2 separate regions of the Homo sapiens genome follow, and region 1 is linked to region 2. Evidence: fine-mapped expression QTL. A gene starts in region 2. The other region holds a variant in brackets. All regions are shown on one strand. Distances are from middle to middle. Region 1 overlaps XPNPEP1 (X-prolyl aminopeptidase 1). Region 2 holds the start of XPNPEP1 (X-prolyl aminopeptidase 1).

Region 1 (13,501 bases), 45 kb after region 2:
TACAAGCGACCCCTTAACATCTTAAGTCAGACAGGTGACAGGGATTTTGATTTCTTTTCTAGGGCTATTTAATCTCCGAGGATCAGATGTGGAGCACAATCCAGTATTTTTCTCCTACGCAATCATAGGACTAGAGACGATCATGTGAGTGTTTGCCCTGCATCTGGAACTCCCTTCCAGAGCTCCTCAGAGCCCTAGTGTGCCCTTTCTGGTCCTGGCCCACCCATCACTGCCTGATATTTCACTGATGTGCTTCTTTTTTCTTGCCCTTTTAACATTTTCCCTTCTTGTTTTCCTTAGCAGTAGGTGTTTATTTATATCCTGCCTCTCTTTGAGCCCCCAAAATGGTTTGAAACGCATGAAAGTGTCTATAGTTCGGGCCACCCATTTGATGTCAAGTTTTCTAGCAGCCAGTGTTAAGGGGTATATATGCTCAATTATACAATTCTGGGTCCACAATGCAAATAAACCCAGTCATTTTGAAGGTCAAAAATAATATGGGAAAACCCCTCCAACTACGCTTTGTTGAATTGTCAGTTTATTTTTTCAAAGCATTTCGTGTGGCCTTCTTTTCATTACTGTTCTATTTCAATAGCTTTTTGCATTAAGACAACACATTTATTAAGTGCTGGTGATGTGCTAAGGGTCTCTGTTAGGTGCTAGGGTGACTGAAACAGGACGGGGTCCTTGGCTGGAGTTGGGGAGATGAGCATGTCCTCTTTCTAAAGTATTTGGGCACATAAGTGGGCACCAGTCTGCTTGTGGGACAGATACAGGTGTTACGAGAGGGGCCTGACCTAGACTTGGAGATCAGAGCAGACTCTTGGGGAAAGTAATATTTTGAAGCAGAGAGTAAGGATAAATGTGGGTGAGTTAGGTGAATGGCAGGGTGAGGAGGGGCGGGGAACCATGATCCAAGCAGAGGGAACAGCATTTTCAGAGACTCTGGACAGTAGAGAGCACAGTGCATGTGGAGGACCTGAAGTGGTTCAGTGAGGTCAGAACATAGTGAGGCCAGAATGTGAGCAGGGGCCACAGAAAAGAGAGGCCTTGTGGGCCACATTCAGGAGCTTGGGTTCTTTTTCTGAACAAGAATAGTGGGAAGCTATTGAACGAATTTTTCAGAGGGAACCACATGTTAGATGTACAAGTTGTAAAGAATATTATGACTGAAACATCGGTAGATGGGGAAAGACTTAGAGGCTGTGGCACTAACCCAAGTGAGAGATGGTGGGACCTGAACCTGAGTGGTGACTGGGCGAGGCTGTAGATGAGCTGGACAGATTAGATGGAGATTTAGGCTGTGGGTCCCAAGGTCTTAATGAAGGACGGGAAGAGGGTCATCAGTGAAGGAGGACACTGCCCAGATTTCTGGCTTGGCAGATTGGGTGGATGGGGGCAGGGAATGCACCTTGGAGGGCAGGATTTGGGAAAGGAGTGGGGAGGAGAGAAAAGGGGCTTGGTTTTGGTTGCCAGGAAACAGAGCCTGATGTGTATGTGTGTCTGTGTTGCCACCTCTCACTCATGTTCCCTCCTTTTTCTGCCACCCACCTCTCCTCCATCTGCAGGCTCTTCATTGATGGTGACCGCATAGACGCCCCCAGTGTGAAGGAGCACCTGCTTCTTGACTTGGGTCTGGAAGCCGAATACAGGATCCAGGTGCATCCCTACAAGTCCATCCTGAGCGAGCTCAAGGCCCTGTGTGCTGACCTCTCCCCAAGGGAGAAGGTGTGGGTCAGTGACAAGGCCAGCTATGCTGTGAGCGAGACCATCCCCAAGGTTGGTGACCCCACTTTGGCCCATCTAAACTCTGCCACCCCCTTCCCAGTTCTGGTATTGTCTTTGGAGCACAGGCAGATTTCTGAGGCTGCCTGTTGGATCAGAACTGTGGTCTCCATGGATGAGGCCTTAAAGCTGGAGCCATAGCAAGAGCCTGAGGGCCCTTATTGCTTGTTGAGTCTTGTGTTTTCCAGAGTGTGGCATGAGAGATTATTTTAGGTGGTACACATTATTATTTAGGTTTGCTTAAATATATCTGTTTTAACAGCATTTAGCATATAATAGAAAAAACATAACTAGCATGAGTTCATGATATAATTATTTAAAATAAAGTTGAATTTAATAAAGCTGATTTAAAGATGGTCTAAAGTAAAGTACTAAGTGAATAAGGGTACAGCAGTTAAGAAGCTAGGGTAAAAGCTGTGCAGGTGGTATAAGAATGCTTGAAGCTTGGGAAATGCTTCTCTACCCCCTCCTTCTGCCGCACCACATTTTATAGCTAAGGACACTTGAGGCTCAGAGAGGATTGGGGAGTTGGGGATTTGGGGATTTGTCAAATTCAAGTGATAGTGATAGCCTTGCCCTTTACTGAGCCCTTGCTGGGCAGTGCTAAGCAGCTGACACTTGTTGCCTCATTTTCATTAGGGTCTGGGATGGGACTGGAATCCAGGCCTCTTTAGAGGTAGGCTTTTCTACTGTCCTCCCCTGGGCCTCTGGCTGCCAAGTGGCCTTTGGCAAGCCCAGTGATGTCCTTTCTTCTCCACTGAGCAGTGGGGCATCCTGGGAAGAATCCAGGCCTGGCTCTCTAGATCTGGCTTGCCATTGTACCCCTGCCATCATCACACACAGTGTGACTCCTCCTCTCTCTCTCTCCTCTCTCTCTGGAGAGAAAGAGAAAAGGAGATAAGATCACAAAAGCAATTTTAGAAGCTTTGTGCAAGTGCCAGGTGTGCTGAGGCCCCTCTGCTGGATTCTAACTTGTTCTCAAATTGGAAAGGGTCTTCTCCAGCCCTTCAAGATCAGATTATTATCAGTAGCTGAGATAGGACCACTGGGCGGGAAGGGAGGGAGCAGGAGACCTCACTCATCAGGTCATGTGCATGGCTAGACAGGGAGAAAAAGCCCCCTTTGTACAGCAAGAGAAGGGTGATTTCGGTCAAGCTTTCAGTGTTAGTGAACTCTAACCACAACCACAGTGGCTTGGAAAGCAATGTCTTGCTGACGGCAGGCAGCCAGCAGTCTCAAAGAGCTAAGGGAGTGAGGGATGGAAGAGAGACACCTTGTTTGATGTACTTACTCTTTTTGGTTGAGCTTAAGCTCAGGGTCATCAATCAAAAGGGACAGGTCGTTGGGGCCCCAGGGGATAGCTATATGGGTCGCCAGTGGGAGCTCTTCAAATGATTTGTCTAAAGTAAGTTTTGCTGAGCAAAAAGGTTGTTGCCTTGGTCTTGGGTGGGTGGAGCCGGTTTGATTTCCCACCCTACTGCCCTTTGCCTCTAGGACCACCGCTGCTGTATGCCTTACACCCCCATCTGCATCGCCAAAGCTGTGAAGAATTCAGCTGAGTCAGAAGGCATGAGGCGGGCTCACGTGAGTAGAGGAGCTGGTGCAGAAGATGGGATGTGAGGTGGTCAGAAGGCCCGGCTCCTTCACCTCCTCTGTGGCATTGAGCCTGGCACAAGGTTAGAATCTCTCTGAGCCTCAGCCTCCTGGCCTTCCAGGAGGAGTTATTGAGGGAATGAAATAAAATACTTGATGGATTAGATCTTTACAAAGTATAATACACAATACAAAAGGAGATATTGATGTTCACAGTGTAGATGATGGTGATGACGTGATGCTGATGAAGAAAGATTTTGGGCCCAGAGGTGGCTTTTGATAGTGGCCTGTTTTTTCCTGGCCCCTGTAGGGTTCTTAACCTTTAAGTTAACCTTTTGGAGGAGCTCCCTGTGCTCTGAGGTGGGGCCCTTCCTGATTGTACCTGAACTACTGAATAGCAGAGGAGCCTTTCCCTGATAATGGGAGTTGCTGCACACACCAGCTTCCCAGAAATGTCCACATGTAAAGCTCTGGTTGCTGATGATGTGTGGCCCTGCAGGTACAGCCTTCTCAGTATTGCATTAGGGCTAGGCTCTGAATCTGGTCACGTGATTTTCAGTGATAACTTAAAAAATGTCTCCATTGTTTGCACAGATTAAAGATGCTGTTGCTCTCTGTGAACTCTTTAACTGGCTGGAGAAAGAGGTTGGTTCTTAGTCTTTGTTTAATATGTGGATATACATTATTCAGACCTACCTATATGTGATTCTAACTCTAGCATCTCCCATGCTCTGCTGACCATGAGATCTGAGATCTTCATCAAATTTTTGGGCTCTATTTTAATAATTCTCTCTGGAAATTTGGTGTGTGTAGATTTCAAAATTCCTTAATTATGAAAATAGTAACAAGAATGAAGAAAA[G/A]TTCCATAATAGAGTGGATGCTTTTTGGGTTAGGGAATCATAACTAAGTGGAATTTCATTATAAGGAAAAATGAGTCTTATAATATTATTATAGGCAAGCTGATTGTATTAGGAGAAAAAGATCTTTGTGTACATTTTGAACTTCAGTTTAAGCCTTGAGCCTTTTTATATTAAATTGACTCTTGGCCATTAATTTCTTGCTCTAGTTGACAAGAGGGTGGTTTCTCTGTGGTGTTATTAAACAATATCATGTTCCCTTTAAGTATTGTATAAACAACTCTTTAATTGGGAAAAGAAAATATTGTCTTTATTCCCACTAGTGTAACTTTTTCCCTCATGTTTCCTTCTGGTGATTGTTCATCTATGTAAATTATTATTATTATTTTATTTTATTTTATTTTTTGAGACGGAGTCTCACTCTGTCACCCAGGCTGGAGTGCAGTGGTGTGATCTCGGCTCACTGCAACCTCTGCTGCCCAGGTTCAAGAGATTCTCCTGCCTTAGCCTCCCAAGTAGCTGGGATTATAGGCGCCTGCCACTGCGCCTGGCTAATTTTCGTAGTTGTAGTAGAGATGGGGTTTCACCATCTTGGCCAGGCTGGTCTTGAACTCCTGACCTTGTGATCCACCCACCTCGGCCTCCCAAAGTGCTGGGATTACAGGCATGAGCCACCATGCCTGGACTTTATGTAAATTATTATTATTACATTTTTATTATTTTTTTTTATTTTTGAGACAGAGCCTTGCTCCATCGCCCAGGCTGGAGTGCAGTGGAGCGATCTCGGCTCACTGCAAGCTCCGTCTCCTGGGTTCACGCCATTCTCCTGCCTCAGCCTCCCGACTAGCTGGGACTACAGGCGCCCGCCACCATGCTTGGCTAATTTTTTGTATTTTTAGTAGAGACGGGGTTTCACTGTGTTAGCCAGGATGGTCTCGATCTCCTGACCTTGTGATCCGCCCGCCTCGGCCTCCCAAAGTGCTGGGATTACAGGCGTGAGCCACCGTGCCTGGCCGTAAATTATTTTTAAAAATATAAATTATTTTTACATGTCTCTTAGTGTGCAGATAAATTTTTTTTCTTTTTTTTTTTCTTATTTTGAGATGGGGTCTCATCTGTTGCACAGGCTGGAGAGTAGTGGTGTGATCACAGCTCACTGCAGCCTCAGCCTCCCCAAGCTCAGGTGATCCTCCCACCTCAGCCTCCCGATTAGTTGGGACTACAGCCCACCTGATTTTTTCTGATTTTTTTGTAGAGATAAGGTTTTGCCATGTTGCCCAGGCTGATCTGAAACTCCTGGGCTCAAGCGATCCACCTATCTTGGCCTCCCAAAGTGCTAGGATTATAGGTGTGAGCCATCACACCTGGCTTAGATATGATTTTGTGTTTTATTTTATTCTCTTAGAATCATAGTGTGAACATTTTCCATGTACATTGAGGCCTTAAAAAAGGATCCAAATGAAAACTGCATCTAGTGGCTCTTCTGATTTACTAACCCAGTCCTCCTATTTTTAAATGTTTGGGTTGTTTTTAATTTTTTGCTGTTATCAGTAATCCTGCAATAATCTCTCCGCATTTATCTTTTTTATTTCTCTAGAATGATTTTCTTACGATGATTTCTTAGGAGGGGATGCTTTTGAATTTTTAAACTTAGATATGTTGTTTTGGGAGGTTTTAGGATAAAATACTGAAGCACAATAGTTGAGTGAAAAATTAAATGAATAGAAACTATTGGATTTTAGATAGCTTTGGTGAGAGCCTTTGGGAGTTCTCCCTTGCTAAAGATGTGTCCTGTAGATTGGTCAGTTGGGATGAAGCAATTGAGGAAAAAGTGAGCTTTTAATGTACCTCCTCTAATTTGTAAGAGGCACACATGAATTTATCTCACCAGATGATTTATAAGCAATTTTCTCATAGGTTCCCAAAGGTGGTGTGACAGAGATCTCAGCTGCTGACAAAGCTGAGGAGTTTCGCAGGTAAGGATCCATTTGGGGGGACCCAGGAGCCTCGTGCTGATTTTCTTGCTAGTTGAATGAGGCTGGAAGGGCCCTGAATCTTAGCACAGTAAAAACCTTTAAGCCACTCTGCTTTCTGTCTTTCTGTTACAGGCAACAGGCAGACTTTGTGGACCTGAGCTTCCCAACAATTTCCAGTACGGGACCCAACGGCGCCATCATTCACTACGCGTAAGGCATGCGGAGGAGCATGCTGCCTGGCCTTGCTGCTTCTGCACAGGAGCCTGAGCAGGGGAGAGACATTATTTTACCAGAGGCCTCTGTGCCCACCTTCATCTGTCTGTTGAGACTGTAAAATGAAGGGAAATAAGACTTCTAAGATTTTATTTTCTCCCAATCCCCAAGCCTCTGCCTTTTGGGAGCCTCTTCTTAGGCTCAGTATGGCACTGGCATTCTCTGCAGGGTAGTCAGATGGGTGTCCCTCTTTCCTTTTTGAAGCTGCAGGAACTGTATGCATAGCCCTTGCATCTTGATGACTAAGTTTTTTTTTTTTTGGAGACAAGGTCTTGCTCTGCTGCCCAGGCTGGAGCGCAGTGGTGCCATCACAACTCACTGCAACTTTGAACTCCTAGACTCAAGCAATCCTCCTGCCTCAGCCTCCTGAGTAGCTGGGACTATAGGCATGTGCTACCACTCCTGGCTAATTTTTAGATTTTTTTGTAGAGATGAGGATCTTGATGTGTTGCCCAGGCTTGTCTCGAATTTCTGGACTCAAGCAATCCTCCTGCCTCAGCCTCCTAAAGTGCTGGAATTACAGGTGTGAGCCACTGTGCTTGGCCCATGACTGGAATTTTTGAGTAGTTTTCTTTCTTGGTAACAGCAGCTGTTTTGTACTAGTCCATACATCTTGTGAGCTCCATCAGTTCCATACCAAAAAAAAACTTAGTAGTAGGTTGTGAGGCAACCTGTTTTGGGTGGAGAGATAATCAGTACCCTCTCTTCCTGTCCCCCTGAGCCTGAAGCCTGGCATCCCAGTATGTGGTTTTTTTACCACGTGGTCTACAAGAACCCATGGACCCACAGGGCCGAGCCTCCCTTCCTTGTGAGACAGAGGGGCACTGATATGTCTAGGACTGACAGATCTTCCTGTGGAGATGGGGGGAAATGTCATTAGGTGTGGCCATTGGGCTTCAGCCTCAGCTCTGCCTGGTTCAAACCGCTTTGCTTTGCACTGGGTATTTTGAGTTCTGTGCATCCCCATCTGTTACATGCACAGCCAACAAAAGAACACTGTGCTTGGGCACACACTTTTTTCCCCCTTTTAATAATTGTTTTTAGAGCTTTTAGTCTTGGGGCAGATTTTGAAGCTGTGTGTGGGAGACAGTCACAGATGGGACAGTACAGTTTCCTCACTTAATGCTTCTGTTCCAGCATAAAAATATCAGAGGGACTTCAGTTTTTGTTTAACTCAGGATGAATTTCCTGGCTGGATACTATCCTAGAATTTTCCGTATAATTAAAACATTAAACAGTTTCATGCCAGTGGAAGAAATTTGCCTCTGCGTTGGCATTTCTTCATTGTGGGTGGTTGGAAGCCTGTTTAGAGGCGGGGTTCTGGAGGTACTGGTTGTCTTTTTTAGTTGTTCAGCTTGTGTGTGGACTGGTGCCCTTATTGCTGAAGAGGGGGTGGTACCTGGAAATGGAGGACAACCTCACTTCAGCTGCAGGGCAGAGACTTGGAGTGCTCTCATCCCTTTGGGTGTTTCCCAGTGCAGTGATATTGTTTTGAAAACGGTGTGGGGAAAGAGATCACTTTTTGAAAATACCTCATGTTTGTTTGAAGCAGAAGAATATCGTGATCCATTCCTTTTCCCAGCAAAATTCCTTTAGTTTTTCTCCCAAGTTGAGACATCCACTCCTGCCTGTCTAGCAGTCTGGGGAGCGAGTGGGGAGGTACCTGCTGGGGTCAGGGCTGAAGGAGGGGCCTGGAGGCTGAGGCAGGGGCCTGGGGCTCCCAGAGACAAGCAAGGCTGCAGTGACTCCAGGCTGCTCCTGTCCCAGTTCCCAGGACTCTAGCTAGGTCCTGTTGCATCTAATCGTTCTCATTTTTTTAGCTTTTAGAATTATCTCTTGAACACCTATTTTGTTTCAGACACAAACAGAGGTAGACATAAAGAAATGTGTTACTTTTCCTTTGTTGAGCTCTTTATCTCAGCTGGGGAGATAGGTTGATTGGATCTTTGAAAAGTAGAAGTTTAATATTAGTTGAAATAATTCATTATTGCATAACTTTCTATTTTGATATAATTTCAGGCTTATGTAAGTTGCAAGAATAGTACAAAGAGCTCTTGTGTGTCCTCCTCCCAGATTCACTAAGTGTTTACATTTGTGGAATAATTAATTTTTAATTAACTTTGTTAGGCCAGTCCCTGAGACGAATAGGACCTTGTCCCTGGATGAGGTGTACCTTATTGACTCGGGTGCTCAATACAAGTAAGTAAACCAGGACTGCTGTGGAACTTGACTATGGATTCGAGGCAGTGGAGAAGGTGGACAGCTGAGCTCCAGCTGAGAGCACTCAGCTGGTCATCGCCCTCTGTGCTGGCCACTAATGGAATCGTTCCTGTGTCTTGTCATTTTTTTCACCCCTATTTGAAATAGCCCAGTTGTGACTCTGTTCTCACAAAAGACTGTTTGATAGAAATGTTACAGTCCTTGGCTGGAAGTTTTAAAAATATAAGTAAACAACTGTGAAGTAAAGCAAGCTTTTGGAACCGTTGAAAGTTTTCCACCCCAGCCCATGAACCGCCTGCCGGTTCCCTGTACTCTCAGCTGCCCCAGGGCCTTATGAAGTAAGGGATTAATTTTGAATGAATAAATGAGAAATGAGGGCTGCCCCCACATTTCTGAATTTCTTTCTCCATGTTTTGCTGCTTTCACGGCTATCATCTCTGGAACAAAGTTTCTCAGAGAAGAACCCAAGATTTGGTTGGGTCTTGATACGGAACCCAAAAGAAGGAGTAAGAATAGACCCTGTCTGCATTAAGAGGGCACGAGCAAGGCCTTTTTTTTGAGACAGAGTCTCACTCTGTAGCCCAGGCAGGAGTGCAGTGGCGTGATCTCGGCTCACTGCAAGCTCTGCCTCCTGGGTTGCAGCCATTCTCCTGCCTCAGCCTCCCAAGTAGCTGGGACTACAGGTGCCCGCCACCACGCCCGGCTAATTTTTTGTATTTTTAGTGGAGACGGGGTTTCACCATGTTAGCCAGGATGGTCTCGATCTCCTGACCTCGTGATCCGCCGGTCTCGGCCTCCCAAAGTGCTGGGATTACAGGCGTGAGCCACTGTGCCCAGCCGAGCAAGACCTTTTAGTGCTGCTCCATTCCCCACTGAAGTTGGGACTATGGCTAAGGGAGGACCTAATTATTGAATGAGCTCAGCCAATTACGTGGCAACCATGCCTGGCCTTGGGACACAGGGGTGTTAATAATATCAGCCTAGAGCTAAGGATTGCTTGATAATGGTGTAAACTTTTCTTCACTTCTAAATTTTTAGCAGGATTCTAGAAGTTATCCTTTCTATGTCAGGGATATAGTCTAGTGTGTGTTAAGATATGTACTTGGATATTTTTAGGGTCTCTGTCCAGGAAACCCCCTGCTGTTCTAACAGGAGAAGTTGGGTTTTGGCCCTCTTTTGCTAGAGATGGGCTCCTGTTTTCTTTGCCTTCTTCTGTCTTGTTCATAACCCCAGTGATAGTGTCTCTCGTGAAACAGCCCTTATGCTGTAGACCAAGAATGCGTGTGTCAGGGGCTGACGTCACTCCCAGTTTATTTAGCCATCCCTGCATTCACACTTTGTTTCATTTTTTAAAATAACTTCATTGGGGTAAAATTTATGTACCATGTAATTCACCCACTTAAAATATACAATTAATTTTTTTTATATATTCACAGAGTTTTGCAGCCATCAGCACAATCAATTTTAGAACATTTTCATTACCCCAAAAAGAAACCTCATACCCAATAGCGGTCACTACCCCCTTTTCCACTACCCTGGAGAACCACTACTCTCCTTTCTGTATCTATGGATTTGCCTATTTTGGACCCTTCATAGAAATAGAATTGTATTATGTATGGCTTTCTGTGTCTGGCTTCTGTCATTTAGCACAATGTCTTCCAGGTTCATCCATGTTGCAGCATGTATCAGTATTCCATTTCTTTTTAATTACTGAATGGTATTGCACTGTGTGGATAATCCCCCATTTTGTTTATCCATTCATCAGTTGATGGACATTTCAGCTGTTTCCATCTTCTGGCTATTATGAATAATGTGGCTGTGAACCTTCATGTACAAGTTTTTGTGTGGATGTATGTTTTCAGTTCTCTTGGATATATAACTAGGAGTGGAATTACTGGGTCATATGGTGACTATATTTAACCTTTTAAGGAACTGCGAACTATTTGCAAAGATGGCTGTGCTATTTTACATGCCCACCAGCATTGTATGGGGCTTCTCACTTGTCCACATGCTTGCCTGTGTCATATTTGACTTAAAGCTTATTTTGACGGGAAACCAATTTGTCCTTTTTTTGGAAAGGGATGGCACCACAGATGTGACGCGGACAATGCATTTTGGGACCCCTACAGCCTACGAGAAGGTAAGGTGGAGGTAAAAAACTCAAGAGGTCCTCTCTGCTTTCTTAAGAAGAGCATTGCTTTTATGAAAAGGGATTGTATAAAGAAGTAAAAATTACATGTGGGGTAGTAAAATTGCTCCTTGCTGTGGAGTCAGGCTTATCTGCTTTACGAGGTTCATTTAACTAATTATTGGAATAAGACATTTGGAGAAATTTTTAAAGCATTCTGCTAAGGTTAGGGCAGCTCAGGTGTAAGTTTAAATATAATAGCTTTGGCCTTCTCTTGAGTCAGGAAATGCCTTTGAGGCTGGGGATGAGAGAGTGAAATACATGCTTTATAAGCAGTGCCTAGATTTGATTTTGAAGGCCACCCCCTTCTTTTTTTGAGATTCTTATTTACAGGCTTAACTCTCTGGAAACTTTCTGAAATGACAGACTCTATTAAGTTTCTGGTATGATTGGCATGGAAAGGGGAAAGAGAGCTGTGAGGCAGAGAGATGTGTACTAGGGGTCTGGAGACCTGGCTTCAGAGCTTCTGTGCCATTTACTAGCTCTGTGACGTTGAACAAAGCAGTCACCATCCATAAAAATGAGGATAAAAGGACCCACCTTCCCGGGTGGCTGTGAATTCCCATGAGCCCAGCAAGTTCCTGGATCATAGTCACTGCTCAGCAAATGCTGATTGAGCACCTAAGTGAATCTGTTTGTCCAAGAGAGCTCCTTCAGGAAGATTATCCAAGGAAAAGGGTTTTATGCAATGTAGTGGGGCAGGTTTCATTGTCTTGGTCCCTTGCCTTTTCCATTTGTATTCACCAGTGCCTTAGAAGAATTTGGACCTTGCGTCTAGGATTCTTTTGGTGTGACTCTTTTTGTGCTTTTCAAAGAGCTCAACCAGGCTGAGGAGCATGGAGTTTTAGTCCTGACTCTGCACCTTACTGGCAAGCTGCTACACTTCTGAGTAGCACTTCTCTTGTCCGGACAGTGGGGATAACCCCTGAAGATAGGATGGTGGTAGGGAGCACAGCTGTTGAAGCAAGAGTGCCTGGCTCCAAGGCCAGATGCTGCCACTTAGGCACTGTGTGATCTGGGCATGCTACTGAATCTCTCTGTGAAGCGAGGATAACAGTAGTGCCTCCATCGTGAAGTGTGGGATCAAACATACAGTGCTTAGAATAGTGCGTGGCACAGAGGATAGCTCAGTAATGTTAGCTAGGGTCATCAGTACTTTTTATTACTTTTCCATTCTTTCTAAGGCTCACATGATGGAGTATGTCAGAGTGTTCATTATAAAGTCATGTGGGGTCATCTCTCTGACAGTGCTCTTCTACTAAATTGAATTTCAAGATTTTCTGGGAAATTGGTCCCGTGGCCAGGCTTTTTTTCCACCAGATTTTTTTCTTTTTACTTACATTTTCTCTATGATATTGCTAAAAACTTTAGCAGGCAGGATTTTCTGAACTACCAGAAAACTACAGGATTAGACATCTGTCCCCATTCTGCAACATGCCCCTGGGTTTTCTTTGCAGGAATGCTTCACATATGTCCTCAAGGGCCACATAGCTGTGAGTGCAGCCGTTTTCCCGACTGGAACCAAAGGTAGGTGGTGCATTCTGTCACATGGCAGGCTCTTTTTCTTGTTTGAGAATCAAATATGTCTATGTTTGAGTGAAAGAACATGTCGTTCCTTCACTGTGAGGTCCCCATCCCACTTCAGGCCCAGCCAGGTGCTCATGGGGTGAGTCTCCATAACCCACTGACTGAGCCCAGAGGCCTCAGGGAGCCGGGTTAGGATTGGGCCCAGTACCCCCTGTGCACCATTCTCCTGACCACTTATGGTATTGGATGACACATGTGGATGGCTCCCAGGAGAGGACAAACCAGATATGAAGGTCACAGGGCCTGAGTGGAAGTTGGTGCAGCCTCCTGTCTGCCCTTTAGTACTGGGCCAGTGCTTCCTTTCGGGATTCTTAGGATTTATTTTACTGGGACCCTGACTTCAGCTATGTACTACTTTGCTTGAGGCCTGGTGGGTGGAGCATTGGACTGGGCATTGACAAGACCTGGGCTGCCTTGCTTTTGGGTAGATTAGACATGTACTCATCTCCCTAGGCCTCAGTTTCCTCATCTGTCATGCCTGCCTGTCTGCTTGCAGTCTGGTTAGAGTCTCATCTTTGTAATTCTGAAACCTTAGGGTCGCAGAGCTGGCAAGGGAACGTCCATGTCTGATACGGCCTCTGTGTGCTGTAGGTGTCTATCCCCGCTCACCAGCATCCTGAATGGATGATCGCCTAGCTTCAGACTGAGCTCTGATGGTTTCTCAGGAGCTCTGATTGTTAGAAAGTTCTTCCTTGTGCTGTGCTGAAATCTGAACCCTCCAGTAACTTACCTATTGGTTTCTGTTTCACGTTCTGGAGCCACACATAATAAATTTAATCTCTAAAGCGCTGTACAAATACAATTAAGTGGCTCTTTATGTCTTTCAGGTCACCTTCTTGACTCCTTTGCCCGTTCAGCTTTATGGGATTCAGGCCTAGATTACTTGCACGGGACTGGACATGGTGTTGGGTCTTTTTTGAATGTCCATGAGGGTCCTTGCGGCATCAGTTACAAAACATTCTCTGATGAGCCCTTGGAGGCAGGCATGATTGTCACTGATGGTAAGTGTCCCTCACATAGAG
Region 2 (16,463 bases):
AAATGGAGGGCTCTCTGTCCCATTTCATGGGGCCAGTCCCTGCGCTGTTCATGTTCCTTGTTACTGTATAGAAGGAAAGACTAGTATTGCCAAACCAACCTTCCGATTTTTCAAAAGAGACCGAAGACACAGATTTTTATTTTTATTTTTATTTTTTATTTTATTTTATTTTATTTTGAGACGGAGTTTCACTCTTGTGTCCCAGGCTGGAGTGCAATGGCGCGATCTGCACTCACTGCAACCTCCGCCTCCCGGGTTCAAGCGATTCTTCTGCCTTAGCTTTCCTGAGTAGCTGGGATTACAGGCAGGTGCCACCACACCCGGCTAATTTTGTATTTTTAGTAGAGATGGGGTTTCTTCATGTTGTTCAGGCTGGTCTCGAACTCCTGACCTCAGATGATCCGTCCGCCTCATCCTCCTAAAGTGCTGGGATTACAGGCGTGAGCCACCGCGCCCGTCACGGATTTTTAAATAGTGAAATCTTCCTCTTTGAATGTTTCCATCTAATTAGAATTTTAAAAGAAATGGAATAGCCCATAGATTGGGAGAAAGTATTTGCATATTATATAATTGATAAGGGACTTGCATCTAGAATATATAAAGAATGCTTACAACTCAATAATCAAAAAAACCTAATAACCCAATTTAAAATGGGAAAGGGATCTGACTAAACATTTCTCCAACAAAGACATATAGATGGTAAATAAACACATGAAAAGAGGCTCAACATCGTTAGCATCAGGGAAACGGAAATTGAAACCACAATACTACTTGAAATAACACTTCATATCCACTAGGATGGCTGGAATTGAAAAAAAGATAACAAGTATGGATGAGGATGTGAAGTTGCAACCCCCAAACAGTGCTGCTGGGAATGGTGTAGCCACTTTGGAAAACAGTCCAAAAGTCTCCCACAAGGGGTTAAACAAAAAGTGACCATATGACTCCGTATTTTCTCTCCTAGGTATATACTCAAGATAAATGAAAACACATGTCCACACAAAAGCTTGCTCATGAATTGTCATAGAAACATTCTTCACAATATCCAAAAGTGGAAGCAACCCAAATGTCCATCAACTGATGAATGGATAAACAAAGTAATATTCTGTACGATGGAATTTTAATTGGCATATTTGGTAATAAAAAGGAATCAAGTACTGATACATCCTACAACATGGATACATCTTGAAAATGCTATGCTAAATGAAAGAGGTCAGTCACAAAAGACCAGATATTAAATGATACCATTTTTATGAAATGTCCAGAGAGGCAAATCTATAGAGACAGAAAGTACATTAGCAGTTGCCTAGGGTGGAGAGGACGGGGGGAAATGGGGAGTGACTGCCCTAGGGTATGAGTTTCTTTTTGGAGTGATGAAATGTTCTAAAATTGTGGTGATGCTTGCACAATTCTATGAATATAGTAAAAACCATTGAATTGCACACTTTCAATTGGCTCTGTGTATGGCACTGAATTGTATTCCAATAAAGCTGTTATTAAAAAGAGAATGTAGTGCTGAGCATAGTGTAATCCCAGCACTTTGGAAGGCTGAGGTGGGTGGATCACCTGAAATTAGGAGTTTAAAACCAGCCTGGCCAACATGGCGAAATCCCGTCTCTACTAAAAAATACAAAAATTAGCTTGGCGTGGTGGCACACTCCTGTAGTCCCAACTACTCGGGAGGCTGAGGCAGGAGGATCCCTTGAACCTGGGAGGTGGAGGTTGTGGTGAGCTGAGATCATGCCACTGCACTCCAGCCTGGGCGACATAGTGAGACTCTGTCTCTGACTCTGTCAAAAAAAAAAAAAAAGAAAAGAAAAGAAAAGAAAAGAAAAAAATATATACTCAGGGTCAAAGAAAACATATGGGATTTGATTACTACATAGTCAGACTGGAAGGCATTTGTCAAGCCCAACACCTTAAGAAACCAGAGGAAAGGGTGCTCTGCCAGTTCTATAGTCACACATTTATTTAGCGGCAGAAACAGAGTCAGAATTTGTCTCTTGACCTTGACCTCTAGGCTGTGCTGCCCCTCTCCAAAGCCCAGTTTTGAAGACATAGCTTGGAAGGGATTGTGAGAAGTCAACATCATGAACAGCTGGATATACTCTCTTCCCTTTCCCATATTTTGCAAAGGTCCCCCAAAGGCTTCTTGAGGAGGGGATAAATTACGGTAAAAAGGAATACTCCTTAAAGGAAGAGACTGCCATAGAGCTTCCCTGAGTCTTTTCCCTCATAGGGTGGGAGGGTCTGTGTGTTTCAAAGAACACTTACTCTGTATGTTTCTAATTCATTTGCACTTAGCTCATCAATATGTTGTTTGTGCAAGAACCATTTGATGTTCAAGAAACCCTCTGGGCCTCTTAAAGGGCTTTTTAAAAAATTTGAGCCAGAGAATTGAACTTTGCCAAGAGTAAATGGAACTCAGATATCAAAAGGTCTGAGTTCAGTTTTCATTGAATACAAAGGGTGAGTAGATTCTGAATTGAGCCAAATGCATTCTCCCACCCTTAATTTACAGTACATTGTTTTGGCAGACTCTACAATCCTGAAAGTTGGCTTGTCTTCTCCCATTCCTTTCTAGGGTGCAACCTCAAGCCTATCTTTTAGTTAACTTTACAAAAAATAAGGCCATGTTATAATGATTTATGAGAGCTTCACTCATTACTGTTCTTGTAACTATCAATTTTATTAGAACAAACTGAAATGTTTGAAAAGGTTAAAACTCTCCTCTAAAGCTATAATTTTGTTTGATCTCCTACAGGGATTTCTATTTTTTTTAGTCCTCTCATCTGGGAGTTTATCAAGAGATGTTGCTCCTGTTTCAATAAGTGGTCAGGTCATCAACCAATTATCAAATTGAATACTAGAGGGCTACTATTACTTGTAGTGCTTGGATTTGGAGTACAAAACGAGTTCCTTGGCTCTGCCTTCCAAGGAGTAAGGGCCAGAGAAATTATTAGTACTTTGAGTTTCTTGTTAATAAAAAACAATCTCAAAAAAATGGCAAAATTAAAATCAGCCCAAGTTCTGCCACCTCAAGATATGCACTAAGATTTTGTGGATCACTTTCCTTTTATTCTAAAAAAGTACTTACTCTGGGTGTAATGGCTCGTGCCTATAATCCTAACACTTTGGGAGGCTGAGGCGGGAGGATTGCTTGAGCCCAGGAGTTTGAGACCAAGGCTGGGCAACATAGGGAGACCCTATTTCTACCAAAGGAAAAAAAATTAGCTGGGTGTGGTGGTGTGTGCCTATGGTCCCAGCTATTCAGAAGGTTAAGGTGGGAGGATTGCTTGAGCCTGGGAGGTCGAAGCTGCAGTGAGCTGTGATCACACCACTGCACTCCAGCCTGGGTGACAGAACAAGACCCTGTCTCTCCCTCCCAAAAAACTCTGTATCTATATATCCGTATCAGTATACATAGTTATGGATATGTTATAAAAATGGGATATTGGCCAGGCGCAGTGGCTCACGCCTGTAATCCCAGCATTTTGGGAGGCCGAGGTGGGCAGATCACAAGGTCAGGAGATCGAGACCATCCTGGCTAACACGGTGAAACCCCATCTCTACTACAAATACAAAAAATTAGCCAGGTGTGGTGGCGGGAGCCTGTAGTCCCAGCTACTCGGGAGGCTGAGGCAGGAGATTGGTGTGAACCCAGGAGGCGGAGCTTGCAGTGAGCCGAGACTGTGCCACTGCACTCCAGCCTGAGTGACAGAGCGAGACTCTGTCTCAAAAAACAAAAAACAAAAAACAAAAACAAAAAAAGGGATATTATATTGTTTTATAATTTACTTTTTCCCTTTGTTAGTTCGTGATTGTCTACATTAATAAAATGATATCTACTCATGCATAAAATTCAATGGTACAGATGGTTACTTAAGTAAAGTCCAGTGGGACATCTGGTTTAAGGTGTTGCAGGATGCAGCACTCAAATAACGTTTTGAGGTCTGCTTCTCCCCTTTCTATTTGCTCTGTCTTCTGCTGCCTTGGTGCCATTCACATGTTGCACATAGAGGCAGCAGTTCGAGTATATGCATCCAGGATCTTGGCTGGCAGAAGGAAGCAAGACTCTATTCCCATAGCAATATCTGATCCTATCATTGTAGCCTATGCCTGGGTTACATGATACACTCTTGGAATCCAAGTGTTGCACTTGGATAACATACATAGAGAATGGGGAAAGGAGGGAAGTAGGGAGAGGTGGGCCCCAGAGGGAATTGGTAGGATGGTTATCAGAAGGAGAATGAATGAATGTCGGGTGGCCCAAAACACAGGTCCACAATCTATACACGGACATTTGGAACTTGTTTTACATTGGTTTCCTAGGGCTTTCGTAACAAAGCAACACAAACTGCGTGATTTGAAAACAAATTTGTTGTCTCACTGTTCTGGAGGGCTGGAAGTCCAAGATCAAGATACCCACAGGGTTAGTTCACTCCATGGGCTGTGAGGGAGAATCTGTTCCATGGCTCTGTCCTAGCTTTCGGCAGTTTGTTGGCAGTCCTGGTGTTTGTTGGCTTGTAGATGCATCGTCCTGATCTCTGCTTTCGTGTTCACATGGTGTTCTTCCTGTGTGCACAGTGTGATTTCTTTTTCTGTTTTAAATAAAGACACTTCATATTGGATTAGGGATCCTTCCTACTCTAATATGACTGCATTTTAATTAATTACATCTGCACTGATCCTATTGCCAAATAAGATCACATTCGAAAGTACTAGGGGTTAGAGCTTCAACATATGAATTTTTGAGGTCACAATTCAATCCAACATATTTCTACGCATTTAATATTTCTGGCTACATCTAAGACCCACCCGGTCTGGGTGTGAATGCCAAAACCAGCTGTCTCCCTCTTTCTGCTGTGTGGGCTAGGAGACTGGATGAGGCCACCTCTAGGGTCCCTTCCAGATAACTTCGCGATTAAGTGTCAGGGCTAGGAATCCATCCTGCTGTCTGAATGTATGTTACAGTACCACCACTTACTAGCTCAGGGACTTTGGGCAAGGGGCTTAACCTCTGCAAATTTCAGTCTCCTCAACCAGTAAAATGAGGATAAGAGTCCTTCACCCATTGGTTTGTTGTGGGTTAGACACATAGCCTTCAATGAATGTCAGGCAGTGTGACTGTTCCACTTCTTTGAGGATGCAAGGACTGTAGAGCCAGGAGAAGAACCTATATAACTCCTGGTGTTCTCATTCTCTCATGGTAATTCAGTGCTATAACTTCTCCAGAGGTTCTCTTGTTAGAACTTCAAGAGCGAGGCCGGGCACAGTGGGTCATGCCTGTAATCCCAGCACTTTGGAAGGTCGAGGCCAAGGAGTTCAAGACCAGCCTGACCAACATGGTGAAACTCCGTCTCTACTAAATACAAAAAATTAGCCGGGTGTGGTGGCGCATGCCTGTAATCCCACCTACTTAGGAGGCTGAGGCAGGAGAATTGCTTGAAGCCGGGAGGCAGAGGTTGCAGTGAGCTGAGATTGTGCCATTGTACTCCAGCCTGGGCAAAAAGAGCAAAACTCCATCTCAAAAAACAAACAAACAAAAAAACTTCAAGAGGGGAAAGGGTTCCTTTTTTTATCTTGCAAACAGGAACTCAAATCCAGCTCAGGGAATGCAAGGTATTTCTCTCTCTCCCCTGAAGCTGGATGCCGTAAATTCTGAGCCAACTCCTTTTCTTTTAGGCAATGTGATTATTAAATACCTGTCCCCCTTAAGTTTCACTTATCTCTCTCTCTCTTATCTCGTTTTCTCTTATAACTTGATTTTTCCCACCAGCTTTCAGATGTGGGCTGGAACCAGTATTTTATTTACAATCTCTCTGTTTTTGGCTTCATAAATTTGGGGAAATGCAACAGATGTGTGCTGCTTTCCCAGGAAGCACATCTTTAGTTTTTTCATGCTTTAACTACACAGTCTAATTCGGCTTGCCTAAATGCTTATTCAATAACGACTTTGAGTTCTTGCAGGTAGCAGAACCTAGCTGATACAGGTATATTAGGCCTTACACCAAGGTCAAAGCAGGAGGAGGTGCCATTCACCTTTAAAAAAATGTGGTCACTTTCATTTAGTGCCAGGTGTTGTTCTAAGCACCAGGGAAATAACAATGAACAAGAGAGCCACCATCCCTGCTTTTGAGGAGTGCACATTCTGAAACATTCATTTCTGCAGAAAATATATAATGAGAACTTATGACATGTTAGATATTGTTCATCATTAAACAAAACAGAAACAATCTGCACTGATGGTTTTGTTGTGTGCGTGGGTGGTGGCAGGAGAGGGGGAAGAATACAGTACACATAAGTACATTAAAAGAATCCTGTTAAAAGGTGGTAAGTGCTATGGAAAAAATGAAGTAGGGTAAGGCGGATTAGGAATATTGGAATGATTTACAAATTTAAATAGGATGGTCAGGGTAGGTGATACTTGAACGAAGACTTGAAGGAAAATGAGGAAGGGAGCCTCAATATTTGGGGGATGAGCAAGTCCAAAAGCCCTGGGACATGAGTGTACCCTGCTTTTTCAAGGAGAGCCAGGAGGCCATTTCAGCTGAAGAAGAGTGAGGAAGGTGAGAACAGGAGGAAATGTGGCTGGGGGTAGATCAAATGGAGCTTTTATGCTGCGTGAAACGAGAAATTAATGGAAAGTGCTGAGCAAAGAAGTGACCTGGTGTCACGCTTCAAAGGACTGGTCTGGCGGCTTTGTTCAGGCTGGACTGTGCAGGTGCGGGATGGTGAGGGGATATTTGGGGGGCTGCTGTAACCACACGGGTGGGGTGGTACAACCCTCTGATGCACATCAGAGGGTAGGAGGTGGAGGTGGTGTGACACGGCCAGATTAGGGGTCTATTTTGGAGGCAGGGCCAACAAGATTTTGCTGGCAGATTAGATGTGGGGTGTGAAAGAGAAGAGGCAGGGAGGATTCCTAAATTTTGCCTCTTAAGAATAGAGTAGCCATTGATTGAGATGGCAAAGAAGACTGGTGGAGAACGTTTTTGCTTTGCTTCGGTGCATTGGGAGTTCCAGGAGTTCCGTTTGGACGTTAAGTTTGAAGGGGCTATTTACTATCCAAGCGGAGCGGAGAGCTGGATTTTGAAGCTCTCTGGGAACATACTTTTGGGGACATTTCTAAAGCTTGAGACCCTGTTCCAAAGCCTCGAAGACCCTGTCGAGGTTCTTCCGGAGCCGGCCACGTCCCTCTCTTCTCAGCCCTCCTAAATTAAGCCGGAAAATCCCTGGGACAGTAGCCCCTTTATTCGGCAAAGCCCTTTTTCCTCTTTGAGGAATGACGACAAAAACGAACAAAAATGAAGACACTCAGCAGCACTGCGTCCTTTCCCCGCTCGCTGCAGGGAGAGGCAATGCGGACTGGTGTGGAAGGGCAGGCCCCGCTCTGGGCCGCAGGCGCTGCGGCCGCGAACCCCAGGTCCGGGAGTGTGGGCGGGGCCTGCGTGTGGGCGGGGCCGCGGCGCCAGCGCCCGCCACGGGCGAGGGCGTGGCCGACCCGGCGCTAGCCCGCCCGCCCGCCCGCCGGCTCTCGCGCCTCCTTCGCGCCGGCCCTTCCGCGGGTGATCAGCTGGTCTGCGCTCCCCTGACGTGGGCTGGGGCACGTCACCGCCGAATGGCAGCCTCCAGAAAGCCACCGCGAGTAAGGTGAGGGCACTCCGCCGGCAGCCGGCGTCCGGGCAGCGTGCAGCCCTCGCTGCGCGGCCGCGCGTGTTGCACCTCGGCGGGCAGGGACGCGCGGGTGAGGAGCCCGGCCCGCCGCAGTCTGGCGAGGGCCGCGCTCGCCGGAGCCCCGGAACAGGAGCCGGGGGAAGGGGTCCATGAGGCCGGGCGAGATCCGGTTCGTTTCCGGAGGGTCGGTGGGCACGGGGCGGCCCGAGTCTGGTTCCTGGACGCGTATGCCCGCGGAACTGCTGCACTCGGCCTGAGGGGGCGGCGGCCGTCACAGTTCCTGGCCCGCGGGAAGGCCCCGTTCTTGGAGGAAGTTGGCCCCTCTTCGTGTCCGGGGAGGTGGGCGAGCCTTTGCCCTCGCTTCTGTTACCCAGGAATCTAAACCTCAAGTTACAATCTCGACAATACTGACTCCTGCAATTCACTCTACTGATCTGTCACCGCCACAAGGATAGACGGTCGCGGGCCCCTCCCTACCCAAATGGTTTCAGAGGCTGTGTAAGGGAATATTTTGGTATAATCTCCAGGAAAATCCCCCCAGTAGCCTGCCCTGGGCTCTCCTTGGGCATAGGAGGGTGAGACAGATAATTTCCCGGCCTCAAGTTAAACATGTTTTAGTTTATTCCCCTGCCATAACCAGGATGTACTTATCAGAGCCTCTGACAAAGTGGGAGACGGAGAGAGGTGTTCAGAGTTCATGGAGGCCACAGGCCAGACTCCCTGGCCATCCCCAAGGGGTCACCCACCTGCTAACCACTTGAGACATGAATGCACTCACTTTGCAGCATGGCCAGGCTTTCTTGCTGAACACAGACCATGGCTCCTGCTTGTGTTTGTGAGTAGGGGGGTCCCAAACCTACCTTGACCTGGATTTGCCGTTGCCACAGCTTGTTAAGGGTGAGCAGAAAACCAGACCCACCCTGTGGAAGTATGTGGGAGGGGTGGAGAACTTCCATCTGGAAGGAGCTTCCTGTAAGTGAAGTGCTGGAAATGGAGTCAGGCAAGTGGATAATGATGAGTTAGGCTGTAGGCCTCAGGTGGTCTTTAGGGGGCCAAGGTGATCTGTGCTAGATTTATAGACTCACAGCCTTTTAGGAGCAGAAGAGTCTTTTCTACACCAGCTGGTAGAGTCTTTTTTACCTCAAAGGAAAGTCCAGTGAAAGGCTGAGAGAGGGGAAGCCATTTTCCACAGGCGCCTCCCCTACTGGTAGAATTTGAGTGCCATTCCTTGTAAAAGTGAGCACTTCTTTCAGTTTCGGTAATGGAAACTGAACTCAAATTGATTTACCTAAAATGGGGTTGAGCTGGCTTCTAGTGTGGCTGAATCCGGGAGCACCACCAACATTGGCTTCAGACTTCTCTTTATCATCTCTTGGCTCTGATTTATTCAGTATCCGCTTCATTCTCAGGGAGACTTTCTCCTTATGGCAGGTTATGACAGTTCTAGGCTGACAGCCCCAGCAGAGAAGTTGAGCCCTCCTTCCTAATGGAGCAGAAGTCCCTGATCTGATGCTCACTGGGCTGCCTTAATTCTCATGTTCATCTGTGAACCAATCATTATGGCCAGAGGGAGGGATTGACCTGCTTTGGGTCCCAGAGCCTGTTAGGTGTTTGGATAAGACTGCTTTGAACCCCTTGGGCTGAAATGGAGAGGGTACATTCTCAAAAGGAAAACCAAGGTTCCCATCAAAAGGAGGGATGGATTCTGGGTAGACAAAGACAACATTGCTTACTTCCCAACCTTAGAACTTGTTCCAGTTTACCCTTGTCTCATCCACTAGGTGTGATTGAGCATCTTGTTCCTTGTTTTGCCCCATGCTGAACGCTACACATGTGTGATTCCCATGAACTGGGGGTTGCAGGGGGGTGAGGTATTCAGAACCCTGCCAGAATTTCTTGGAAAAAGAGGGAGAAGGCCTTTTCTAGTGCTACCATAACCATCTTATACAAAGATTGAAAGTGCTCTGCATGCTTCTTGCCCCTTACCCACTTTGTGGCTCATCATGAAGTTGAGAAGGTGTAGGTCGAAGAAGTTCTGGGAAGGGTAGGAGCACTGAGCTGGATGTTGGGAGGCTGGAACGCTGGTTCTAGCTCTGTCAGCAGTTAGCTGTGAGGCCTTGAGCCAGTCATTTGATCTTTGTTTCTTGGTTTCCTGGTCTAGAGGAGGGAATTGAGTTGGATAGTCCCTGAGGTATATTCTTCTAGTTCTTAATATTTAATGATAATTGTGCTTTGACAGAGAACTTAAGAATTTTATCTGTCCAAACAAGTGAAAGGTGGATAGATCTTGGACTCTGCGGAGACCAAGATACGACAAGAACAGAGCAGCTGTAGTATTGAGCTGCTTCGTAGCTCCTGTGATCCTGACAGAAAGGTGGAGGTGTTGATGCTCACACAGAGAGTTTGAGCTCACCTGTCAGACCTAGTTTCTGGTCTTGGCTTTGCGGCTACTGAGTTATATGGCCTATGGTAAGTTATCTTTGTTTTTTTATTCTGTAAAATGAATGAATAGGATTACCTTAAGGTAACCTTGGCTAGGCACGGTGGCTCACACCTATAGTCCCAGCACTTTGGGAGGCTGAGGTGGGAGGATCACTTGAGGCCAGGAGTTTGAGACCAGACTGGGCAATGTGGTGAGATCCTGTCTCTTCAGAAAATTATTAAAAAAAAAAAATCAGGTTGGTGTGATGGCACATACCTGTAGTCCTAGGTCCTTGGGAGATTGAGGCAGGAGAATTGCTTGAGCTTAGGAGTTTGAGGCTGCCATAAGCTAAGATTGTGCCACTGCACTCCAGCCTGAGTGACACAGCAAGACCCTGTCTCTAAAAAAATGATAACCTTCCACCTCTGTAGTCATGTGTCTGAACCAGTCATTGGGATCAGTTACTTACCATCTTAGAAACTTACGTATGAAGTAATGGGAAATTCGGTGAGAATCTGACTTGTATCCCTGTCCACAAGAAAGAGATGTTATAAAATTTATAATGGCTTTATTGAGATATAATTCACTTATATACAATTCATCTGTTAAAATGTACAATTCAAGTTATTAGTATAGTCACAGAGTTGTACAACTATCATCACAATCATTTTAGAACATTTTCTTCATCCCCGAAAGAAATCCTGTTACCTGTAATCAGTCACTCCTCACCTCAGCCCTTGGCAACCACCAACACTGCATGTCTACTTCCTGTCTTTACCGATTTGCCTATTCTGGACATTTTATGTGAATAGAATCATATACTATGTGGTCTTTTGTATTAGGCTTTTTCCCTTAGCATGTTTTCAAGGTTCACCTATGTCATAGGTGTGATTTCTTTCTTTTCTTTCTTTTTTTTTTTTTAAATGAGACGGAGTCTTGCTCTGTTGCCAGGCTGGAGTGCAGTGGCACGATCTTGGCTCACTGCAGCCTCCACCTCCCGGGTTCAAGTGATTCTCCTGCCTCAGCCTCCTGAGTAGCTGGGACTACAGGTGTGCACCACCACACCCAGCTAATTTTTGTATTTTCAGTAGAGATGGGGTTTCACCATGTTGGCCAGGATGGTCTCTATCTCTTGACCTCATGATCTGCCCGTCTCAGCCTCCCAAAGTGCTGGGATTACAGGCGTGAGCTACCGCGCCTGGCGTGATTTCCCTTTATTGGCAAAGAACATTCCATTATATGGATAGACACTTTTATTTATCCATTTATCAGTTGGGCATTTGAGTTGTTCCTACAGTTTGGCTGTTACAAATAATGCAGCTGTGAATATTTGTGTACAACTTTTTATAAGGATATATATTTTCAATTTTCTTGATTGTGTACCTAGGAATGGTTTTCCAAAGCCATTACACCATTTTACATTCTCATCAGGAATGTTTGAGGGTTCTAATTTTTTCTATACCCTCACCCGCACTTGTTACTGTCAATCTTTTTTATTATAACCTTCCTAGTGGGTGTGAAGTGGTATCACATTGTGGTTTCGATTTGTGTTTCCCTAATGACTAATGATGAGCATCTTTTCATGTACTTCTTGGTCATTTGTGTACTTTTGCTGGAGAAATGTCTATTCAGATCCTTAGCCCATTTAAAATTGGGTTATATGTCTTTTTATTGTTGAGTTATAATAGTTCTTTATATATTCTGGATACTAGACTCAACAGATTTACAGATGTTTTCTCCCATTCTGTGGGTTGTCATCCATTTTCTTGATGGTATCCTTTGAAACACAAACATTTTAAATTCTGATGAAGTCCAGTGTATCTCTTTTTTCTTTTGTTGCTGTGCTTTTTGATTTGTGTCTAAAGAAGTCATTGCCTAATCCAAGGTCAGGCAGACTTATGGTTGCGCTATAAGAGTTTTACAGTTTAGCGCCTACGTTCATACCTGTGATCCATTTGGGTTAATTTTTTTTTATTTTCTTTCTTTCTTTTCTTTCCTTCCTTTCCTTCCTTTTCGTTCTTTTTCTTTTTTCTCTCTCTCCTTCCTTCCTTCCTTCCTTCCTTCCTTCCTTCCTTCCTTCCTTCCTTCCTTCCTTCCCTCCTTCCTTCCTTCCTTCCTTCCTCCTTTCCTTTCTTTCCTTTCTTTCCTTTCCTTCCTCTCCTTCCTCTCCTTCCTTCCTGTCTTCCTTTCTTTCTTTCCTTTTCTCTTGCTCTGTCGCCCAGGCTGGAGTGCAGTGGCCCGATCTCAGCTCACTGCAAGCTCCCCCTCCTGGGTTCACACCATTCTCCTGCCTCAGCCTTCCGAGTAGCTGGGACTACATGCGCCCGCCACCATGCCTGGCTAATTTTTTGTATTTTTAGTAGAGACAGGGTTTCACCGTGTTAGCCAGGATGGTCTGGATCTCCTGACCTCGTGATCTGCCCACCTCGGCCTCCCAAAGTGCTGGGATTACAGGCGTGAGCCACCGTGCCCGGCCCATTTGTGTTAATTTTTGAATATGATATGAAGTGGGTTAAACTTCATTTTTCTTTTTTTGAGACAGGGTCTCTCTGTGTCACCAAGGCTAGACTGCAGTGGGGCGATCACAGCTCACTGCTGCCTCAACCTCTCTGGCTTAAGCGATCCTCCTGCCTCAGCCTCCTAAGTAGCTGGGACCACAGGTGTGCACCACCAAACCTGGCTCATTTTTGTAAATTTTGTAGAGATGGGTTTTGCCATGTTGCCCAAGCTAGTCTCGAACCCTGGGACTCAGGCAGTCTGCCTGCCTTGGCCTCCCAAAGTGCTGGGATTACAGATGTGAGTCATTGTGCCTGGGCTTTTTTGTTTTTTTGTTTTTTTTTTTGAGGCAGGGTCTTGCTCTGTAACCCAAGCTGGAGTGCAGTGGTGCTATCATGGCTCACTGCAGCCTTGACCTCCAGGGCTCAAGTGATCCACCCCACCTCAGCCTCCAGAGTAGCTGAGACTACAGGTGCACACCACCATGCCTGACTAATTTTTGTATTTTTTGTAGAAACGGAGTTTTGCCATGTTGGAAACTTTATTCTTTTGCATGTGGATATTCACTTGTCCCAGCACCATTTGTGGAAGAGACTATTCCTTCCCCATTGAATGGTTTTGGCATCCTCAAAAATCAGTTGACAGTTGTGAGGGTTTATTTCTGGACTGTTAATTCTGTTTTACTCATTTGTAAGTCCATTCTTATGCTAGCACCACACTGTCTTGTATTTAGGTTTGAAATTGGGATGGAAGAGTTCTTTTCAAGATTTTGTTCTTTTTCAAGATTGTTTTGGCTATTCTGGGTCCCTTGCATTTCCATATGAATTTTAGAATCTGCTTGTCAGTTTCAACCTCCAAGCTAGCTAGAATTTTGGCAGGGAATGCATTGAGTCCATAGATCAATTTGGGAATTACTGCCATCTTACCAATAGTAAACCTTCCAATCCATGACCATGGAATAGCTTTTGTTTATTTAGGTCTTCTTCAGTTACTTTCAGCAGTCTTTTTTAGTTTTTGTGGTGTACATTTTGCACTTCTTTTGTTAAATTTATTTCTAACTATTTTTTGTTTTTGATATTGTAAATGGACTTTTCTTAATTTTATTTTTGAATTGCTCATTACAAGGATATAGAAGTCAAATTGATTTTTTAAATATTGATTTTTGTATCCTGCATTCTTGATGAACTCAGTTATTAGTTCTAATTTTGTTTGTGGATTCTTTAGGATTTTCTGTATTCAAGATTATGTCAATTGCAAATAGAGATAGTTTTACTTCTTCTTTTCTAAACTGGATGCCTTTTGTTTCATTTTCTTGCCTACTTACCCTAGATAGAACTTCTGGTACAATGTTGAATAGAAATGCCAAGAGTAGACATCCCTGTCTACTCTGCCAAGAGTAGACATTCCCTAGATTATAGGGGAAAGCATTCAGTCTTTCAGCATTAAGAATGATGTTAGCTGTAGGTTTTGTAATAACTTTTGTCAGGTTGAGGAATTTTTCTTCTAGTTTGCTGAGTACTTTTAACTTGAAGGGGCATTGGATTTTGTCGTGCTTTTTCTGCGTTTGTTGAGAAGACCATGTAGATTTTGTTCTTTATTCTATTGATATGGCCTGTTATAATAATTGATTTTTCATATATTGAGCCAACCTTGTATTCCTGGGATAAGACCCACTTGGCGATGATGATCCTTTTTATATTGTTCTAGATTCCGTTTGCTGGTATTTTGTTGAGGATATTTGTATTTATATTTTAGAAGACATATTGGGGTGTCTTACTTTTTTATGAAAGAATAATATGTTTACTCTCGTTAAGAACATCCCATTCTGTCCAGTAAAACTAAAGTCACAGCCATATGAAAGCAGGCCTAGAGTCATTGGTAAAGCTGCCTGGTTATCTGGTTCTTACCGTGTGGTAGACTGAGCTAATGTGTCCCTCTCTGTCTTTACCAACATGTAAAAATGCGGTTAAATTATAACTTAATTGAGTTCATAGCTGAGTAAAATTCAAAACCTTTTCTATGGCCCCACAGTAGGCCCCCTGGTGCCTCAATGATGTTGTCTCTGAACCACTTACCTCCCCATCCCCTGATACAATCACACTGCGCTGACCTTCTTGCTTTTCCTCAGGTAAACTAGACATACTCCTGCCTCATGGCCTTTGCACTTGCTGTTGTCCTGGAACATTGTTCCCCTAGCCGTTCACATGGCTTGCTTCCTCACTCTTTTTAGGTCTGTGTTAAAATGTTGTCTGTTATAATAGAGGCTGTCCCTGGCTACCCCATATGAAATAATCCTTCCCCTTACCTCCTTGATGCTTTCTTCCCCTTGCTGTGCTTTACTTTTTTTCACAAAACACGTTCTTATTACTTGACGTATTGTGTACTTGTTTTGTGTCTGTTGCCTTCTCTTCCCTGTCTTCTGCCCATCCCCCTGCCTTGCCCCATCTTAATTTGTTAAAGTCAGAGATCTTGTCTGTTTTGTTCACTGTTGTGTCCAGAATAGGGCCTGGATTATGGAAGATTTTTCAATAAATATTTGTTGACTGAATGAACTTGAAAGAAAGAGAAATCCTCAAGTGCCAAAAATGTAGAGGGAACCTAACGCCTGAGTGGTATGCTAGTAACCTGAGCCTGGGAAAGTTACCAGATGCAGATATAGACCTTCATGCCTGGTGTCCAGGGCATTAGACTATCCCCATATGGGAACAAGAAGTTTGTGTGTAAATCTTCTAGCTAATAAATTAATGTGAAAGTCTTAGAAGCAAACAATAACAGAACTGCTTGTACAAACCAGGACCCATCACATTCTCATAGATAAATAGCCTCTATTGAAGATAAGCTCTTAATAAAAGATCACAAAACGCAGAAGGAATGAACCACCAAGAGGGAGAGGCAGCAGACCTAGCAAACATGAGGGTTAGTCTCCCAAGATCTATTTGAAAGTATGGGAGAAATTATAAAATAAGGGCCTACAGTAATGAAGGCACAAAGAGAAGGCATAGAAACCAGAGTGCAAGAATAGGACACCATAAAGAAAGAACGGGCAGATGTGAAAAAGAACCAAATAGAACTTGTGTAAGGAAAAAACATTGAAAATAAGTCTTCTTAGTCTAGTTAAATAGGAGGTGTGAGAATTTATGAACTAGAAGCTGCAACTGAGAAGGTTAACCTGCCATGGGGATGTTTTACACCTGCAAGTTTTACATCAAACTTTTATTTATTCTGCCACTGATAATGGGGGTGAAAGTTCTTCTGACTCATGTTAGAGAACTGCTAAGTTAAGCGATGCCTCCTCTAACTGAGCCTTGCCACGTTTATTGTGGTCAAAGTCTGCAACTTCCTGTTCTTTCTCTCCTTAAGGGTGAATCACCAGGATTTTCAACTGAGAAATTTAAGAATAATTGAACCTAACGAGGTGACACACTCAGGAGACACAGGTGTGGAAACAGGTAATAATTTTGTCTGGAAATTAGATGGAACATCTGTAAAGGATTTTAGATCTCCACCCCAACCCCAGGTTGGGTGAGAAGAAGAGGGTAAGGAATTAGTAACAGATCATGACTGGGGGTTAGTATCTGGAAGTTAAAAACCATTTTATTTTTTGGCTTCCTAAGTGGTTGGTTACTGTTTCTATATATTTACCATTTTTTTTTTTTTTTTTTGAGACGGAGTCTCGCCCTTGGTCACCCAGCCTGGAGTGCAATGGCGTGATCTCGGCTCACTGCAACCTCCGTCTCCCGGGTTCAAGCGATTCTCCTGCCTCAGCCTCCGGAGTAGCTGGGATTACAGGCGCCCGACACCACGCCCAGCTAATTTTGTATTTTTAGTAGAGATGGGGTTTCTCCATGTTGGCCAGGCTGGTCTTGAA

Evidence for each region.
Region 1: its variant is fine-mapped to the expression of XPNPEP1 in whole blood (INTERVAL, PIP 0.95).

The regions. Positions count from the first base shown.
Region 1 is chr10:109,870,710-109,884,210 of GRCh38, reverse strand. XPNPEP1 (X-prolyl aminopeptidase 1) reads left to right here. Exons shown (of 21, transcript NM_020383.4): 9 at 63-144; 10 at 1,569-1,779; 11 at 3,280-3,369; 12 at 3,973-4,023; 13 at 6,153-6,211; 14 at 6,344-6,421; 15 at 8,612-8,683; 16 at 10,784-10,844; 17 at 12,350-12,419; 18 at 13,307-13,480. Among named protein-coding and RNA genes, the nearest start is that of XPNPEP1, 46 kb to the left of the region's middle. The variant G/A (reference allele first, on the strand shown) is at 4,239.
Region 2 is chr10:109,914,592-109,931,054 of GRCh38, reverse strand. It overlaps XPNPEP1 (X-prolyl aminopeptidase 1), which reads left to right and starts at 7,544. Exons shown (of 21, transcript NM_020383.4): 1 at 7,544-7,653; 2 at 15,956-16,044. The coding sequence starts at 7,622. RefSeq lists a silencer at 7,329-7,868.